2 separate regions of the Homo sapiens genome follow, and region 1 is linked to region 2. Evidence: fine-mapped expression QTL. Tissue or cell type: testis. Region 2 holds a variant in brackets; the other region holds the start of a gene. All regions are shown on one strand. Distances are between the middles of the regions.

Evidence for each region. PIP is the estimated chance that this variant, and not a neighbour inherited with it, causes the effect.
Region 1: CEP250 starts here. The variant in region 2 is fine-mapped to the expression of CEP250 in testis (GTEx, PIP 0.94).

Annotation. Positions count from the first base shown.
Region 1 is chr20:35,454,445-35,457,187 of GRCh38, reverse strand. It overlaps CEP250 (centrosomal protein 250), which reads right to left and starts at 1,590. Exons shown (of 35, transcript NM_007186.6): 1 at 1,437-1,590. It also overlaps a transcript of GDF5 not described here. RefSeq lists a silencer at 1,796-2,175 and enhancers at 2,196-2,345, 2,606-2,655.
Region 2 is chr20:36,259,104-36,261,603 of GRCh38, reverse strand. No RefSeq gene overlaps it. Among named protein-coding and RNA genes, the nearest start is that of AAR2, 24 kb to the right of the region's middle. The variant G/ATG (reference allele first, on the strand shown) is at 997.

The DNA.
Region 1 (2,743 bases), 800 kb after region 2:
ATTATTACTGACTATTATAGGACATTAGGTAACATGATCCATATTATCACCAATGGTCTTGCAAAATGCTAACAGCTCTATTACCTATATAAAAAGCAAAAAAACAGGCTGGGTGTGGTGGCTCACAACTGTAATCCCAGCACTTTGGGAGGCTGAGTTGGGCAGATCATTTGAGGCCAGGAGTTCGAGACCAGCTTGGCCAACATGGCAAAACCCCATCTCTCCTAGAAATACAAAAATTAGCCAGGCACGGTGGCGGGCGCCTGTAATCCCAGCTACTCAGGAGGCTGAGGCGGGAGAATCGCCTGAACCTGGGAGACAGGATGTTCCAGTGAACCCAGATCGCACCACTGCACTCCAGCCTGGGTGACTGAGACCAGGTCTCAAAAAAAAAAAAAAAAGTGGGGGGAGGCATATAACTTATAGCTTGGTCAGTGGCAGAGCAATGACTGAACCCCAATCTGATTCCAAATTCTACACTCTCTCCATTACATTAGCTGTTAAAGCATGAACATTACATTAGTTAAAGCATGGACTACGAACTCACAGCTCTGTGAGGGGCACTTCTTAAATAGTGAGCGATAATGACACCTATGTCTGCAGCTTTCTGATCGAAAAGGAGCAAAGAAAGATAGAAGAACTAAAGGAACAGAGGGCGTACCAGTAGCCTTGGTTTTGTTGTGACCTCTATAAATCTGGGACCAGTTCTCCTTTCTAAGCCTTCGCGGTAAAATACTGATCACAAGCCTAGCCTCCAATAACTCCCAGGGCCAAAGTAAAGATCAATTCAACAGACGTTGATTAAACCCAAAGGCAATCTAGTCAAGTCATCAAATGCCCTGGGGACAGTTTCCCAGCTCCATCCACTTATTAGTTGTGGGACTCCTGGCAAATTACTTTTTCTATGAATACCTCAGTTTCTTCATGGGTAAAACGTGAAGCTATAGAAAGAACTCACCCCATAGGATTGTTGGGAAGATTAAATAGGCCTTTGGCTGAGCGCGGTGGCTCACGCCTGTAATCCCAGCACTTTGGGAGGCCGAAGCGGGCGGATCACCTGAGGTCGGGAGTTCGAGATCAGCCTGACCAACATGGAGAAACCCCGTCTCTACTAAAAACATAAAATTAGCCGGGTGTGGTGGCGCATGCCTGCAATCCCAGCTACTTGGGAGGCTGAGGCAGGAGAATCGCTTGAACCCGGGAGGCGGAGGTTGAGGTGAGCCGAGATCGCGCCATTGCACTCCAGCCTGGGCAACAAGCGCGAAACTCCGTCTCTAAATAAATAAATAAATGGGCCCTTATGTGTAATGCATTCAGTAGCACCTGACAATTTGTGATCATTCCGTACAGTAAGCCATGACTATTATCATCACGTGCTAGGCCCTGGGATCTAGAGATGAAAAAGGCAAGGCATAACATCTAACGAACGAGCTTACGGTGTCAACGAGGGGCCGGGAAAGTAACTCGGTGCACAGCGAGTGCAAAAACCGAGAAGCGAATGCAGCTGCGCCTGGAGAAGGCGGCTGAGAAGCGATACTTCAGCAGGGTCCTGAAGAATGGGAGCTCCAGAGTCGGGTGGCGGGTGGGACTGGGCTTTCGGATAGATTACGTGCAAATCCGCCAGGACACAGGGAGCGAGGGGCGGGGGGGCGGCAGAGCGCGGCGCCTCACCCTCCCAGCCTGGGATTGCGGCTACTGGACACGAGGGTCGGGAAGCTCTCCTTCGGCGCCGACTGGAGCTTAGCGTGCTGGCGGCAGCAAGAAGCTGAGGCAAGCGGGCCCCGGGCCCTAACGACGCGTCCCAGCCCCTCTCTGGGCCTCGGGTTCCTCCCGGGTAACAAGAGGCCGCTGCCCGAACGGGATTCCCTCAGGCGCCCTAGACGGGCGGGTCTCCGGGCCTCGGACGGTTAACCCGAGCACCTCCCACCTGCCCCTGAGGCCCCACCTCACCACGCTCGGCTCCCGCAGACGCCCGGCTAGTTGCTCCGCGATTGAGCTGCGGCAGCCGCTGCTAAGGCCCTGCGGGGGACGGGGGCGGAGCCCACCCCGAGGCAGAGGGCCAGGCCCCGCCCCCCCAAACTCCCGCCCTTTGGGAGGGGCCCGCCCCTCCAAGTCCTGCACCTATAGGCAGACTGAGCCGGCGCAGGGCCTCCCGCCATGTTGGGTATTGGCAGCCGACTTACTAGAGAGGCCCTGAAGGAAAGGGGGTATTATTTTAAGAATTATAAGATCCCTAGCCAGAAATGGGGACGGTCAGGGTCTCTGGATTCGCGAAAGGGACATTTCGGAAGCAGAAAAGAAAAATTGCCCTCAATCATTTCGCTTTTGGCTTCAGTGTTACATACAGCGCATGTGCAAGGTCACCTGGTTCTAGGTGCGCCTGCGCACAGCTCCACCTACAAACCAGACTACAATTACAACTGCCGAGAAACAAAGGGGCTCGCTGCCACTGGTTAGCGATAATACTGGCAGCGCGACCGGTTTCTGAGGGTTGTTCACCTTGCTGCTCAGACGCTCCGAGAAGCTTCAGGCAGCATAACACTTACAGGCGAGTTACTTACTCAACACTCGGTTTTGTCTGCATGTCTCTGCACAGAGTGTTACCTTTACCTGACTTAATCCGTCCCGGAGCTGCAGTTCTGCTTAAGCCTGACTTCTAGAGAACTTTTTCTTCCCAATAGGACCCATGCGTTATTCCTGTAGCATTTTGTGTATAAATTTTTTTTTTTTTTTTTGAAATGGA
Region 2 (2,500 bases):
GTCCTTCTGCTTCCACCCTTACTTACCCCCTGCAGTCTGTGTCCGACACAGCAGCTTGGGATCCTGTTACAAACAGAAGTCAGCTGCTGGGTGTAGCTCATGCCTGTAGTCCCAGCTACTGAGGAGGCTGAGGTGGGTCACTTGACTCTGGGAGTTTAAGGCTGTAGGCCGCAGTGACAGCGCCTGTGAATAGCCACTGCACCCCAGCCTGGGCCACATAGTGAGACCCCATCTCGAAAAAAAAAAAGCAAAAACATGGAAGTCAGGTCATGACACGCTTCTGCTTGAAACCCTCAACCGTGTGCCCATTTCGCTGATAAAATGGACAGGTCTTACAACAGCCTATAGGCCCTGGACAACCTGGTCCCTGGTTTCCTCTCCTAGTATTCTCGTCTTTGGTCACCCCACTCCTGCCTACTGACCCTGACCCCCTGATGCTCCTCCAATACAAAAGACAGGCTCCTGCCCCAGGGCCTTTGCCTTCGCCGTTTGTTCTGCAGGAACACTCTCTAGACCCCTACATGGCTCACTTGCTCACCTTTAAATCTTTGTCCAAATGCCACCCCCTTTAAATTGCAGCATCTCGGCTGGGCGCGGTGGCTCACGCCTGTAATCCCAGCACTTTGGGAGGCTGAGGTGGGCGGATCACGAGATCAGGAGATCGAGACCATCCTGCCTAACATGGTGAAACCCCATCTCTACTAAAAATACAAAAAATTAGCCGGCGTGGTGGCAGGTGCCTGTAGTCCCAGCTACTCGGGAGGCTGAGGCAGAAGAATGGCTTGAACCCGGGAGGCGGAGCTTGTAGTGAGCCAAGATCACGCCACTGCACTCTAGCCTGGGCGACAGAGCAAGATTCTGTCTCAAAAAAAAAAAAAAAAAAAAATGCAGCGTCTCCCCTCACCCTGCCAGGACTCTCCGTTCCCCTTACCCTGCTCTATTTTGTTTCCCAGGAGCATTTCTCAGGATGGGCCCACTCTGCAGTCTACTTAGCAT[G/ATG]CTTACTGTGTGGCTCCCCCACGAGGATGTTAGCTTACTGTGGTCCCTGAGTGCCACAGGCATGGAGCTGACCTCAGCCACCCTGTGGCTTCTCCCCGGGTCCCCACTCTACACTCTCGAGTATGTGGAGACCTCCTCCTTAGGCCAGCCCTCCCACCTCTGTTCTTGGGTGAAGGTCCTACATTTTTCTCCAACGCTCCTCACTGCAGGCGGGCTCTCCTGAAGATGTAACTCCATCTGTCATCCCTTAGAAGTGAGAGGCCAGACCTGAGCCAGGTGCACTTTTTGGAAGTGGACAGAGGGAAGAGGGAGAAATCAGGAGAGAGAAGCAGCAAGACAAAGACCCAGGGAAGAGGGAAATGTTGAGTTTCTTTAGGGCAGGGCCACCTGACACTGGACAATGCAACTGAGACGCCCCTATTTTTTGCCTCCTCCCACCAAGCAGCTGTCAGCCTGACAAGGCTCAGGATTCCTATTTTCCAGAGAAATCGAGGGAGTCGACACAGATCCAGGACACATGAGAGTAGGCCTGGCAGGCTGGGGGTGGGTGGGGTGGTGGTGGGGCAGGGGACAGGGGGAGCTGAGTGCCAGATGAATGCCTGCGCACCCTGCCCCCCAGTAGTGAGCAGCTGACATTATTTCCCACTCTCATCCCACCACTCAGCCCATCTCTCAGCAGGGAGGCCCGTCCAGGAGCCCAGGGTTGGGGGATAACTAGCCAGTACCGGAGACCTTGGATGCTCTGAAGATGGAAGGGTCTAGAAAGCTCTAACAGAAACAAAGCCTGTCCAGGCCAGATCCAGTGAATCTGAGGTGGGGAAGTGCCATCTACAGTCAGCGGGGGACTGAAAAGAGAAGCAGCGTCTGCAGAGCTGCAGGACCACACGGGCTCCCGGATTACTGGGTAGCTCAGGTGAGCCTTCCCCTGAAAGGAGTATGGTCCTGATTTCAATCTGGCGGACGTGACTCAGTGCTGGCCTTGACCGTGGCATTCACTCTGCATTTTCAGCCCCCATGTCAGCAGGGGACAGCATCTCAGTCAAGCCAAAGTCTGATTAGTTGGAGAGACCAGCATGTCCCAGTGCCCTGGGAATATTAAGGAATATTTACAAGGGGATGATGGTGGGGAGATAATGGTAAGAGGCAGTCAACAGTGGGGAACTCTTCCACTGCTCAAGTGGTGAGAAATTCGATGGGAACGAGGGAGGCTCACAGCAGGGAGGGTTTGTCATGGGGACAGCGGAAGGGGTTAGAAAGTCGCTACCTCTGCTGATTCTGCTAATAGGATGAGCCAGCCTTGCAAATAAGAGATAGACCCCATGAGGCCTGCATTTGAGAGGGTTTTTAAATCAGGCCAGGTCCTGCCAATAGCTTCACACGTAGATGTGTTAGAGCTGGAAGGGAGCGTGAGATCAGCAACACCACTGGTTCTGTTCCGAAAGCGTCTGCCTTCCAAAAATACTGTAAGTATTAAGTAATAATTAATCTGTTTTCACATTTCTTA